2 separate regions of the Homo sapiens genome follow, and region 1 is linked to region 2. A link means that fine-mapping ties the variant in region 2 to the expression of a gene that starts in the linked region. Tissue or cell type: activated naive CD4 T cells. Region 2 holds a variant in brackets; the other region holds the start of a gene. All regions are shown on one strand. Distances are between the middles of the regions.

Evidence for each region. PIP is the estimated chance that this variant, and not a neighbour inherited with it, causes the effect.
Region 1: it holds the start of SGF29, and the variant in region 2 is fine-mapped to the expression of SGF29 in activated naive CD4 T cells (Schmiedel 2018, PIP 0.95).

Annotation. Positions count from the first base shown.
Region 1 is chr16:28,549,996-28,557,384 of GRCh38, forward strand. It overlaps SGF29 (SAGA complex associated factor 29), which reads left to right and starts at 3,925. Exons shown (of 10, transcript NM_138414.3): 1 at 3,925-4,102. RefSeq lists an enhancer at 3,894-4,213 and a silencer at 4,234-4,353.
Region 2 is chr16:29,362,847-29,370,235 of GRCh38, forward strand. It overlaps the pseudogene SNX29P2. Among named protein-coding and RNA genes, the nearest start is that of NPIPB11, 40 kb to the right of the region's middle. The variant T/C (reference allele first, on the strand shown) is at 4,143.

The DNA.
Region 1 (7,389 bases), 810 kb before region 2:
TTCTCCTGCCTCAGCCTCACCAAGTAGCTGGGATTACAGGCATGCGCCACCACGCCCAGCTAATTTTTGTATTTTTAGTAGAGACAGGGTTTCACCATGTTGGCCAGGCTGATCTCAAACTCCTGACCTCAGGGGATCCACCCGCCTTGGCCTCCCGAAGTGTTGGGATTACAGGTGTGAGCCACTCCGCCTGGCCTGATTTTTACTTTTTTTTGAGACAGAGTCTCACTCTGTCACCCAGGCTGGAGTGCAGTGGCACGATCTCGGCTCACTGCAAGCTCCACCTCCCGGGTTCATGCCATTCTCCTGTCTCAGCCTCCCGAGTAGCTGGGACTACAGGCACCTGCCACCACGCCTAGCTAATTTTTTGTATTTTTAGTAGAGACGGGGTTTCACCGTGTTAGCCAGGATGGTCTCGATCTCCTGACCTCGTGATCCGCCCGCCTTGGCCTCCCAAAGTGCTGGGATTACAGGTGTGAGCCACCCCGCCTGGACTGATTTTTAAATTTTTTTTTTTTTTTTTGAGACAGAGTCTCGCTCTGTCACCCAGGCTGGAGTGCAGTGGCACGATCTCGGCTCACTGCAAGCTCCACCTCCTGGGTTCATGCCATTCTCCTGTCTCAGCCTCCCAAGTAGCTGGGACTACAGGCGCCCGCCACCACGCCTGGCTAACTTTTTGTATTTTTAGTACAGACAGGGTTTCACCGTGTTAGCCAGGATGGTCTTGATCTCCTGACCTTGTGATCCACCCACCTCGGCCTCCCAAAGTGCTGGGATTACAGGTGTGAGCCACCGCGCCCGGCTAATTTTTAAATTTTTTGTAGAGATGAGATCTCACTCTGTTACCCAGGCTGGTCTTGAATTCCTGGGCTCAAGCGGTCCTCCTGCCTCAATTTCAGTAGTAGCTGGGACTACAGGTGCATGCCACCACGCCTGGCTAATTAAAAAGATTTTTTTTGTAGAGACAGGATCTTGCTATGTTTTCCAGGCTAGAGTGCAGTGGCACAATCATAGCTCACTGTTGCCTTGAACTCTTGGCCTCAAGTGATCCTCTAGCCTCAGCCTCCCAAAGCAGTGGGATTGTAGGCATGTGCCACTCTGGCCCGAATAGATGAGGGGAGATCATTTAAGATGGCATTGCTCAGTCTCACTAGTGGGCATACATCTCAGAGAAATCTTCATATAGACCGCAGGGGAATAAGCATGAGGTTGTTCACTGTGGCATTGTTTGTGGTAGCCAGTAGTAGTTGGAGGCAACTTACAGGTCCATCATAACTGAAATGTTGCTGCCCACTTCGAAATATTGCATGGTTGCTGTAAGTCATAGGTAAAGTGTGCCCACAATGACAGGTGTTGAAAGCAGAGGGCTGAGGCCTGGCGCGCTGGCTCACGCCTGTAATCCCAGGAAATTTGGGAGGCTGAGGTTAGTGGATCACCTGAGGTCAGGAGTTTGAGACCAGCCTGGCCAACATGGTGAAACCCCATCTCTACTAAAAATATAAAAAATTAGCTGGGCGTCGTGGCGCGCGTCTGCACTCCAGCCTGAGTGACAGAGTGAGACTCTGTCTCAAAAAAATTTTTAAAATAACAAATAAATAGAGAGGCCGTGCAGAGCCCAATGACGAAGTGTGTCATTAAGTAGAAATAAGTAACTCAACCTTAGCACCAGCGATTAAAAAACAGAGAACCTTTGCAGTTGTTTAGGGAAGATGTCCCTACTTTGGCCTAGGGTGGATGTGGTGGAGGTGAAAAGTAGGTGGATTGTGTTATATGAATGAATATGTGTAAAGGATTTTGAACAGTGCCCGGTGCATAGCAAGTGCCTAACAAATGTGTTTTTATATTGCAGACACGTGGTGGATTGAATGAGGGAGGGGAGGGAAAGGGTGATGTCAGGGATAACCCCCAGGTGCTGGCTCAGGACATTGTACTAAGTAGGAGGTGGGACATGAAAACTGAGTATAGATGATTCTTTTGAGAAATGTGGATGTGGAGAAGACAGAGCAATTCCTTACATGTGGACAACACTCTAAAACACTTTTTAAAAAGTTAATAAATACATGTTTATTGTAGAAAAATCAGAAATTAACGATAAAATTTTAAAACAGGGCAGAGACCAAAATAATTTAAAAAACAACTGTAAGCTCTACATCTCTCCTGATCAGTGACTAGGGTTGATTTTTTAAATTTATTTTATTTATTTATTTTTTGAGACAGAGTCTTGCTCTGTTGCCCAGACTGGAGTGCAGTGGCGCAATCTTGGCTCACTGCAACCTCCGCCTCCTGGGTTCAAGTGGTTCTTTCCTGCTTCAGCCTCCAGAGTAGCTGGGACTACAGGTGCGTGCCACCATGCCCAGCTAATTTTTGTATTTTTAGTAGAGACATGGTTTCATCATATTGGCTAGGCTGGTCTCAAACTCCTGACCTCGTGATCTGCCCACCTCGGCCTCCCAAAGTGCTGGGATTACAGGCGTGAGTCACCACGCCTGGCCTAGCTAGGGCTGATATTTAACAATCAGGAAAAAGAGCCCCTGAGACCTTTACAAATGCAAAATTTGCAAAATCCCTCAAAGCATAACCTTCATAAAAGGCAGTAAGTAGAACTGCAGCTGGGTGGATGGGCATGTCATTCACTGACCTGACGCCCACAGAAAGAACTGCAAGTGTGATGGAAGAAAATGATGCATTAATTTTGGGGTTAACATAGTTTCAGTGCTAACGCCTGAGATTCTCTAATAAACAGAAAAATACTGACGGGGCTGAGGTTGGTGGCTCATGCCTGTAATCCCAGCACTTTGGGAGGCTGAGGCAGGAGGATCGCTTGAGCCCAGGAACTCAAGACCAGCCTATGCAACATAGCAAGACCCCCATCTCTACCAAAAAAAATTTAAAAATCAGCAGAATGTGCTGGTGTGTGCTTGTAGTCCTAGCTACTCAGGAGCCCTGATGGCACCACTGCACTCCAACCTGGACAACAGAGCGAGACCCTGTCTCAAAGAGAAAAAAAAAGAAACATGTGATGGCCAGGCACTGTGCTAGGTACTAGGAATACACAGGTGAACACAAGATGATCCCAATCTCATAGGACTTGCAAGTTTATCAAATAATCAACAAATAATTACAGACATTTGTAGGTTATGTAAGAAACTTTAAGATACCAGGATGGCTTTCGATAAAATACCATTGAGGCTACATGTCCATTGCACGTCCATATCCTTAGTACTTTCCTGAGAAGATTCCCTAGAAGTGCGATTTCTGGGTCTAAAGATCTGCTTGTTTTTTGTTTGTTTGTTTTTTTGAGATGGAGTTTCCCTCTTGTCACCCAGGCTGGAGTGCAATGGTACAATCTCCAGTCACTACAACCTCCGCCTCCTGAATTCAAGCGATTCTCCAGCCTCAGCCTCCCCAGTACCTGGGATTACAGGCACCCGCCACCACGCCCGGCTGATTTTTGTATTTTTTAGTAGAGACGGGGTTTCACCATGTTGGCCGGGTTGGTTTCAAACTCCTGAACTCAGGTGATCCGCCCGCCTTAGCGTCCCAGTGTTGGGATTACAGGCGTGAGCCACCGCGCCCGGCCTGTTTTTAATTAATTTTTTAACAACAGACTTTTATTTTTTAGGGCATTTTTAGGTTCACAACAAAATTGAGCAGAAAGTACAGTTTTCATATTACCCCTGCGCCCACCCACCTCCAGCAAGCAGCAATCTGTTCGCTTTCAAGTTTTATTTATTTATTTATTTATTGCATTTTGTTTTAAATAGAGTCTGGGGAAATGGGAGAAAACGCTGAAAACGCACAAGCACTTTGGTTGGTTAAATTAGGGTTCCGCCAAGAGCCGGAGCGGTGTGCCAAGTGAAAACTACATTTCCCACGGGGCAGCGGGTCACGTCACAGAGGAACGACTACGCATGCGTGCAAGGTCCTCCGCGCGCGACTACGCTCATAAAAGGAAAAAAAAGCGTGTGCGGTTCTCGACGTGCCGCCAATCTTCGAACGCAGGTCTGTGATCATCCGCAGACTCCGAAAAAGGGTTCGAGGAACGCGCCTGCTCCCCTCGTCGCAGTTTCCAGCCCGACGAGCTTGTTTTGTCCCGGACTCGGTAGGTGGCGACGGGCCGTGGCCTGAGACCTCCGGCGAAACGCGGGAGCGAAGGGCTGAGTCCTCCCTCCGCGCCGCGGCTCCCGACCTCCCTGAGGCGGCGCTCTAGGGGCGGTGCGCACGCGCTCTGGGCGGGAGGGGGGCGGGGCTCGTGGGGGTGGGGGCGGGAGAGGAGGGCGGGGCCGGGGCTCGGGGAGGGCGGGCCCTGCGCCCGGCCGCTCGAGGTCTGCGCTTGCGTGCTTCCATCCCCGGCGAGGGTGGGAAACAGCGACACGCTGGGCTCGGCACGGACGCAGCTTCCAGGTGGGGTACTCGGACCCGGGTCACGAAGATGCGGACAGAGGATGGGCCCCGAACTCCAGCACTTATTTTATGATTTGCACAAAAATTTTGTATATATATATAGTTCTTAACAAGATACACTAACAGCTCGTCGTTTGCCCAGGAGGCTCAACCTCCCGCCTCGGCCTCCCAAAGTGTGGGGAGTATAGGCGTGAGCCCCCGCGCCCGGCCAAAAAATGCCCGTCTTAAGAACAACAAAACAGCCTCCTTCACCCTCGCTATCCTCCAGTTACCTCCTCCTCGGCTCCGGTTTGCAGCCAAAGGCCTTAGTCTACCCTCACTAATGCCTTTTCTCCTCCAAGTCTTGAACCCTTGAGCCTCTAGTCAGGCTTTGGTCTCCACCACTCCACTAAAAAGGCTTCTTGTCAAAGCCACCAGTGATCTCTAGGTGGCCAAATGCATTGTTAAGTTAGGTCTCAGTCCTGTTCAGCATTTGATGCTGTGGATCACTGCCCCTCCTTGAAACACTGTTTTCATTTGGCTTGCTGAACGTTCTCTTCCTTTGCCTCTGCTCTCTCTGGCTTCTCCTCTGCTGATTCTAACCTAGGCATCATCTCACATTTTTGTTTTTATTAGAGACACGTTCTCTGTTGCTCAGACTGGAGAACAGTGGTGTTATTACAGCTCACTGCAGCCTCAAACTCTTGGGCTTAAGCAGTCCTCCTAACCAAAGCCTCCCCAAATGCTGGAATTACAGGCATGAGCCACCGCAATCCCAGTTTCACATTTTAAATGTAAATACTGGCCAGGCGCGGTGGCTCATGCGTGTAATCCTAGCACTTTGGGAGGCCGAGGTGGGCAGACTGCCTGAGCTCAGGGGTTTGAGACCAGCCCGAGCAACGTGGTGAAATCCAGTCTCTTCTAAAAAAAAAAAAAAAAATTAAAAAATTAGCCGGGCGTGGTGGTGCACGCCTGTAATCCCAGCTACTTGGGAGGCTGAGGCACAATAATCACTTAAACCCAGGAGGTGGATGCTGCAGTGAGCCAAGATCGTGCCACTGCACTCTAGCCTGGGTGACAGAGCAAGACCCTGTCTCAAAAAAGAGTTCTAGAGGTGGAAGAAAATCCACATATAAGTGGACCTGCACAATTAAAACCTGCATTGTTTGAGGGTCAACTGTATAGCTATTTTAAAAGAGATTTATTGTGATGGATTGGGTGACACTATTATAGAGGCTGAGAAGTCCCGAGATTTGCCATCTGCAAGCTGGAAGCCCAGGAAAGCAAACCCTCAGGAAACTCACAGACACACTCTAAAGTGTTTCACCAGCTATCTGGGAATCCCCTAGCCCAATCAGTTTGACACATAAAGTTAACCATCACATTTCCCTAGCTTTGTTTTTCAGTTGCCTCAATCATCATTTTACTGGTGATACTTTGAGTGTTGTCATAATAGCCTAATGGTGGGTTGGCAGCTTCCACTTTTGTGATCTCTTTTACTATTGAATATGCTGAAGTCGTGACACAACTTGGAATTCAGAGGAAGAGCATAGGTTTTAGAACTTGCAGCCTTGCAGCCCCAGCTCAACTACCTATTTTTCCTGAGTTACCTAGCATAACCTATCTGAATTTCAGTTTCTTCACTATACTTACTATTCTGTTATCTATTTTATAGGATTGCTGTAAGGTTTAAATGAGAAACACTGGCATAAGTTGCAATACAGAGGCATGAAGGAAAAAAATTGTCTTCTTAATGTCTCTTTAACCAATTGATGAATATAGATTCTATTTATTTATTTATTTATTTTTGAGATGGAGTCTCGCTCTGTCACCCAGGCCGGAGTATAGTGGTGCAATGTCAACTCACTGCAACCTCTGCCTCCCGGGTTCAAGTGATTCTCCTGCCTCAGCCTCCTGAGTAGCTGGGATTACAAGCATGCACCACCATGCCTGGCTAATTTTTTGTTTGTTTGTTTGTTTGTTTTGAGACGGAGTTTCACTCTTTGTTGCCCAGGCTGGATTGCAATGGCGCAATCATGGCTCACTGCAACCTCCGCCTTCCGGTTTCAAGCGATTCTCCTGCCTCAGCCTTCCAAGTAGCTGTGATTACAGGCATGTGCCACCACACCCGATTAATTTTGTATTTTTAGTAGAGACAGGGTTTCACCATGTTGGCCAGGCTGGTCTTGAACTCCTGATCTTAGTTGATCTGCCGGCCTTGGCCTCCCAAAGTGCTGGGATTACAGGTGTGAGCCATTGCGCCCAACCTACTTATGTTTTTTTTAGAAACAAGGTCTTACTCTGTCACCCAGGCTGGAGCCTAGTGGTGCCATTATAGCTCATTATTCCCAAATTCCTGGGCTCAAGTGATCCTCCTGCCATAGCCTCCTGAGTAGCTAGGACTACACATGTGCACCACCCTGCCCAGCTAATTATTTTATTTTGTTTTTGTAGAGACAGGGCCTCCGTGTGTTGCCCAGGATGGTCCTGAACTCCTGACTTCAAGTGATCCTCCCATTTCGGCCTCCCAAAATGCTGGGATTACGGTCATGAGCCACTGCACCCAGTTTGCAGATTCTCATTGCTAGTGACTGGGTTGAGAGTGTGGGATGTGAGTGTGGGGTATTAGGTTCCTCTTTCCCTTTGACCCAGAACAAAGCTCTTACTGTTTTAAGCCCTGTGGGATTAATCTTAGAGTGGCTTAAGTGTAGGATATTTGGATTTGTTTATTTGAGGCCTTTTATGCTATTATAGTAAAAGGGCCAGCAATTTTAGGCTGGGTATTAGTGGTTAACATATGCTTCTACCCTGCAGCCTTTGTCCCTCAGAATTGGCTATCTCTTCAGACCGTGCTTAATGAAAGTTCTTATTAGTCAAGCTACTCAGTTGCAGATAACAAAAAGCTACTCTGACTAGCCTAAGCTGAAAGGGGTGTTTGTTGACTCTGTGATATTGTAAAATATATATCTGGTTTGTATCCCAGTTTGGAGCTTCCTGGAGGGTGGC
Region 2 (7,389 bases):
AAGGCAGTAACTGTGGCCATCCCTTTGGAATTATTGATGGTGACCCTGCATGAACCTTGTAGGAGATAGGGCTGTTGACAGCTTTGTGTAACAGACACTGAAATTTCTACACCCACAGGAGTAGCAGTCCCACCCATTTTTGGAACTGCTTTTGAGGTGATCTCAGAGTTGTGCTATACCAGTGAGGCCTCACCACATCACACATTGGTTTAGACAGATTGGGTTTTTGGAATTGGCTCAAAGTGTCTTACATCCAAGTGTGATGATTAAAATAGGGGCACAAAGTGTCTTCTGTGAGAGCTGGTCACTAAGGCAAGCTTGATTTCTTTTTCAGTTAGCATTTGCTATATAACAAGTGATTTAAAAATGTAGTGGCTTAAAACCACCGCAGTTCGTTACTTTTTTGTGTAGGTTGGCATGGTGGCTCTGCTGCTGGGCTCCTTCGGCTCACTCATGGGAGCTCGTGGTTAGATTGGAAGATCTAAGATGGCCCCATCCACATGTCTGGAATCAGTGCTGGGGCTGCTCAGATTCTACTCATGGACTCTCATCCTCCAGTCGGCTGAACTGGCTTCTTTATGTATGGGGTCAGGGCCACTGTCCAGGAGAGCAAAGGCAAAGCTGAGACCTTTTAACGCCTAGCTACTAGAACTCACACAGTGTTATTTCTGCCACTTTTTTTTTTTTTTTTTTTTTTTTGAGACAGAGTCTCGCTCTGTCACCCAGACTGGAGTGCAATGGCGCAGTCTCAGCTCACTGCAACCTCTGCCTCCCATGTTCAAGAAATTCTCCTGCCTCAGCCTCCCAAGTAGCTGGGATTACAGGCACCTGCCACCACGCCCAACTAATTTTTTTTTTTTTTTGTATTTTTAATAGAGACGGGGTTTCACCGTGTTTGCCAGGCTGGTCTTGAACTCCTGACCTCAGGTGATCCACCCGCCTTGACCTCCCAAAGTGCTGGGATTATAGGCATGAGCCACCGCACCCGGCCCTTTCTGCCACATTCTTTTGGTAAAAGCAGGGCATGGTGGCTCATGCCTATAATCCCAGCAATTTAGGAGGCTGAGGTGGGAGTATTGCTTGAGGCCAGGAGTTTTGAGACTAGCTTGGGAAGCACAGCAAGACCTCATCTCTACAAATAATAATAAAATTAGCTGGGTGTTGTGGCATGCACCTGTAGTCCCAGCTACTCGGGAGGCTGAGGGCAGAGGATTGTTTGATCCCAGGAATTTGAGGTTACAGTGAGCTATGATTGCACCAATATACTCCAGCCTGGGCAATAGAGCGAGATGCCCCAACTCTTAAAAAAAAAAAAAAAAAAAAAAGGCAGAGCACTACGCCAGCCAGATTCAAGAGGGTGCAGAAATAGACATCACCTCTGGCTGGGAGGAGCCACAAAGACCCATTGCAAAGGGGCATTGCACAGGAATGGCAGGAATTTGAGGCTGCTCAACACTTGACTACACCCCCCAGCTGGTTCTCCTGGTCTCATCTACCAGCTATGAGAATATTTTCCAAAGTGAAGCATTGAAGATCATTTTGGTAATGGTAGCATCCTTCACATCAAAGTGACTGCTTGGAAGGAACAGTTTCAAGGTGTGCTCTGTGGTGTGTTTATTTAAATCAGTGGGAGAGGCCTGCATCCATTCTGCTCAATCTTCTGTACACAGATTTTCACTGAGGATTTTAAAAAGTCTGAATTCATGTTACAGTGTATTTCTCACTAGAATAGTATTTTCCACAACCTGGAAGTGAGTTGGTTTCATCATCCTTTTGTCTTGCCTACTTTTTCTTATACTGTATCTTTTCTTTTTTTTCTTTTTTTTTTTTTTGCCAGATGCCAAATGCAAAAAGGAGCGGAAGAAGAAAAAGCAAGTGACCAACATTATCTCATTTGATGATGAGGAAGATGAGCAGAACTCTGGGGACATGTTTAAAAAGACACCTGGGGCAGGGGAGAGCTCAGAGGACAACTCCGACCACTCCTCTGTCAATATCATGTCCGCCTTTGAAAGCCCCTTCGGGCCAAACTCCAATGGAAGTCAGAGCAGCAACTCGTGGAAAATTGATTCCCTGTCTTTGAACAGGGAGTTTGGGTACCAGAAGCTTGATGTGAAAAGCATCGATGATGAAGATGTGGATGAAAACGAAGATGACGTGTATGGAAACTCATCAGGACGGAAGCACAGGGGCCACTCAGAGTCGCCCGAGAAGTAAGTTCCCCTCACGCTTCTGTGTGTGTGTGTGTGTGTGTGTGTGTGTGTGTGTGTTTGTATGTAAGATGGAGTCTCACCGTCCCCCAGGCTGGAGTGCCGTGGCGTGATCTCAGCTCACTGCAACCTCCACCTCCCGGGTTCAAGCGATTCTCCTGCCTCAGCCTCCCGAGTAGCTGGGATTGCAGGCACCTGACACCACACCCAGCTAATTTTTGTATTTTTAGTAGAGATGGGGTTTCACCATATTGGCCAGGCTGGTCTCAAACTCCTGACCTCAAGTGATCCGCCTGCCTTGGCCTCCCAAAGTGCTAGGTTTACAGGCATGAGCCACCAAGCCCAGCCTCCCCTTGTGCTTTTAATGAGGGGGTTAAGTTCACCGTTTTCTCTTTCTATGGTATTGGGTGAAATAGGTCTGCAAGTTTTATATTTGCCCAGGGTATCATTCATTCTTCAGGTGTTGATTTAGGAGTGTTATTTGGAAGGAGTGTTATTTGCTCTTCCCTTGAGAACTGAAAGAGGGGAAGAGAGTACATTTGAGGGCACTTAATACAAAGTTAATGTCAGAATGTGTGCCTTGAAATTCTTGCTTTATACATACATCTGTAATTTTCATTTCACAGGGTTCACAGGGTTTCACAGTCTGATGAGACTGTGCCTGTTATTGTTTTTTATTTTTACTCTGGATTTTCCTTGCATCTGACTTGCCACTAGCACAGGAAGCTCAGGACGAAGGCAGCGTTAGGAGAATAGTTGTGGTATGGTGACTTCTGTGTTTATCTGCAGGGGTGTGAATAGCTGTAATATCCACTGCACCTGCTGCCTTAACAGTGGAGTTGGCCAGGCGCAGTGGCTCACACCTGTAATCCCAGCACTTTGGGACACCAAGTTGGGTGGGTCATCTGAGGTCAGGAGTTTGAGACCAGCCTGACCAATATGGTGAAACCCCTTCTCTACTAAAAAAATACAAAATTAGCCAGGCATGGTGGTGCATGCCTGTAACTCCAGATACTTGGGATGCTGAGGCAGGAGAATCGCTTGAATATGGGAGGCAGAGCCAAGATGACACCATTGCACTCCAGCCTGGGCAACAAGAGAGAAGGTCCTTCTCAAAAAAAAAAAAAAAAAAATTCCCAAAATACCCCAAATAAGCTAGTTACCTCTTAGGCTTTGTGGTGCACAGTGCCCTCCTAATCATGACTACTGCAAAATCCAGTCCATTAAAGTGTAAAATGAGGCCAGGTGCAGTGGTTCATGCCTGTAATCCCAGCACTTTGGGAGGCTGAGTTGGGAGGATTGCTTAAGGCCAGGAGTTTGATACCAGCCTGGGCAACATAGCAAGAACTCCGTCTCTACAAAAAAATAAAAAGTGTAAAATGAATATACAGAAATGTATCTCTCTATTTGACCTAAATCTTATGGATCGCACCATTGCACTCCAGCCTGGGCAACAAGAGTGAAACTCCGTCTCAAAAATAAAAAATAAAAAAAACATTAAACTTCAAGTCCGGGTGCAGTGGCTCACACCCGTAATCCCAGCACTTCAGGAAGCTGAGGGGGGTAGATCACTTGAGGTCAGGAGTTTGAGACCAGCCTGGCCAACATGGTGAAACCCCATCTCTACTAAAACTACAAAATTAGTCAGGCATAGTGGCAGGCACCTGTAATCCCAGCTACTGGGGAGGCTGAAGCAGGAGAATCACTTGAACCCAGGAGGTGGAGGTTGCAGTGAGCCGAGATCACACCATTGCATTCCAGCCTGGGTGATAGAGCAAAGCTCCATCTCAAAAAATTAAAATAAATAAAATAAAATAATAAAATAAATTAAACTTCAGAAGGAAAGAGAGTTGTAGCCTTGATTCCTTTTTTCCCAAGACACTCCTTGAGGCCTATGCAAATTTTCCCAACTCCTCAGCAGTCACAGCTAAG[T/C]GGGCCAAAGCAAGGGCTAGTGGAAGGAGTGATCGCAGACCCCATGACACCCTTCACACAGAGCCATAGATGACTACTCAACTTACGGTCACGTCACCATGGGAGAGTCACCAAACAGCATCTCTCTCTGAAATGTCAACATCTATACACCCATCTAGTGTCTGGTTTAGGGTGGAAATGTGGGTGTAAGAAAAGTAATTTAGAGGTAATTACTGGCAGCTGAGGGGAGGAGACTGTTCCTCACCCAGCCTTGGGTTAGTGGAGATTTGGTGCAATGGACAAAAACAGAGGTTTTGATTTGGAGGCGAAGAAAGGGGGCAATGGCTCCAGAGGCCAAGAGCAGAGAAGGACAGCCAGGAAGTGGGCTGAGCATGGTGGACTCAGGAGATGGGGAGCCCCATCTTGGGATGCCTCAGAGACATTGTGGAGGGGGCCTGGTTTTCCTTTTTGAACATTTTTTATTGTTATTATTAATTAATTTATTTATTTATTTTTTATTTTTATTATTATTTTTTGAGATGGAGTCTCACTCTGTCATCCAGGCTGGAGTGCAGTGGCATGATCTTGGCTCACTGCAACCTCCGACTCCTACGTTCAAGCAATTCTTCTGCCTCAGCCTCCCGAGTAGCTGGGACTACAGGTGCACGTCACCACACCCAGCTAATTTTTGTATTTTTAGTAGAGACGGGGTTTCACCATATTGGCCAGGCTGGTCTTGAACTCCTGACCTCGTGATCCACCTGCCTCGGCCTCTCAAAGTGCTGGGATTACAGGCATGAACTACCGCACCCGGCCCTTTTCTTTTTTTCTTTGAGACAGAGTTTCACTCTTGTTGCCCAGGTTGGAGTGCAATGGCACAATCTCAGCTCACCGCAACCTCCACCTCTTGGGTTCAAGCGATTCTCCTGCCTCAGCCTCTTGAGTAGCTGGAATTACAGGCATGTGCCACCATGCCCGGCTAATTTTGTATTTTTGTAGTAGAGACGGGTTTCTCCATGTTTGTCAGGCTGGTCTCAAACTCCTGACCTCAGGTGATCTGCCCGCCTCAGCCTCCCAAAGTGCTTGGATTACAGGGGTGAGCCACTGTGCCTGGCCTACAAACTGGTCTATCAGCAAGGTCTTTATGACCTGTATCTTGTGCCAACCTCCTGTCTCATCCTGTGACTTAGAATGCCTTAACCTCCTGGGAATGCAGCCAAGCAGGTCTTAGCCTTATTTTACCCAGCCCCTATTCAAGATAGAGTCGCTCAGGTTCAAATGCCTCTGACACTCCTGCCTCAGCCTTTGAGACAGCTGGGACTATAGGCACACACCACCAGGCCTGGCTAATGTCTTCATTTCTATTTTGTAGGGACAGGGTCTTGCTATGTTGCCCAGACTAGTCTCAAACTCCTGGCCTCAAGCCATCCTCCCACTACAGCCTTGTAGAGTGCTGGGATTACAGGCATGAGCCACCACGCCAGGCCTTGGTTTTTCTTAGTATGTGGGCTAAAGTCATTCAATGTTGATGGTAAAGGAAAATGGGGCCGGGCACCGTGGCTCACACCTATAATCCTAGCACTTTGGGAGGCCCAGGGGGGCGGATCACCTGAGGTCAGGAATTCAAGACCAGCCTGGCCAACATGTCAAAACCCCATCTCTGCTAAAAATACAAAAATTAGCTGAACACGTTGGCTCATTCCTGTCATCCCAGCACTTTGGGAGGCCGAGCTGGGTGGATCACTTGAGGTCAGGGGTTTGAGACCAGCCTGGCTAACATGTACTAAAACTACAAACATTAGCCGGGCACAATGGTGGCTGCCTGTAATCCCAGCTACTCAGGAGGCTGAGACAGGAAAATCACTTGAACCCGGGAGGCGGAGGTTGTAGTGAGCCAAGATCGCACCACTGCACTCCAGCCTGGGCGACAATATAATAATAATAATTATTTTTTTTTGACAGAGACAAAAAATAATAATGATACTTTTTTTAAAAAAAGGAAAATGGGAGGTGATTGTAGAAGGTAGAGGATTTGGAGTGATAGTTCATTACAATTGTAATAAGGACCACAAGATGCTAAGAGTAATGAGATGTAGCGGACGTCTGCTATTTTTGCCTGTTCAGCATCCACTCGTTCTGCTTTGTGTGATAGCACCCCAAGCTTCCTTTGAACCAGTCCTTCCTTCAGCGGAGGCCGACCCCACCCCTTCGCTCTGTGGGGTGGCCACATGACCCAGGTCTAGCCAATCAGCACATTCCATCCCGGAGCAGCAGCTGTGTGCCCCTAGCCCAAGCTAGGCTGCTCCTGGCTTTGTGTACCTATTAGGGGAAAATGTGTTCTCTTTTCACTGCAGTTGCTAAGCATGTGGGATGTAAGCCTGGACTTGCTGGTGGCTGCCTTTGCCACCGCTTAGGGAGATTCTGGCCAGGCATGAAGCCGGCACAGAGTAAATGAAGCAGGGCCAGGAGATGAGGAGAGATGGATTCTGATTGCATTATATGAGTACTAGGATCTGTGTCTGAAATCCAAATGGCTTTTTCTTTTCTTTTCTTTTCTTTCTTTTTAGAAACGGAGCACACTCTGTCACCCAGGCTGGAGTGCAATGGCACGATCTCAGCTCACTACAACCTCTGCCTCCCGGGTTCAAGTGATTCTACTGCCTCAGCCTCCCGTGTAGCTGGGATTACAGGCGCGCACCAACACACCCGACTAATTTTTGTATTTTTAGTAAAGACAGGGTTTCACCATGTTGGCCAGGCTGGTCTTGCACTCCTGACCTCACGTGATCTGCCCCACCTTGGCCTCCCAAAGTGCTGGGATTACAGGTGTGAACCACTGCGCCCAGCCCCAAGTGGCTTTTTCAATTACATGAGCCAACATATTCTCACAAGTCCATTCGAGTTTGGTGTCTGTTACTTGCAAATAAGGGAGTTCTGATTGGTTCCCAGTGAAACCTCATCTGTAAGACCTCTGAGCCACCAGTATCCACGGGGCTTGTCCTATAACAGCTCCTGTGCAATCCAGTAACCTTGAACACTGGAAGCCACTGAGCCCTTCTGTGAGTAGATGCACACCTCTGAGGCTAAGATTACTGGTGTACTCATTGGGACCAGTTTGGTCTCAGTGACTGAAAACTCAACCCAAACTTGTTCATTTGGAAAGGAAAAGTCAACCAGGCACAGTGGCTCATGCCTGTAGTTCCAGCACTTTGGGAGGCTGAGGTGGACAGATCGCTTGAGCCCAGGGGTTCAAGACCAACCTGGGCAA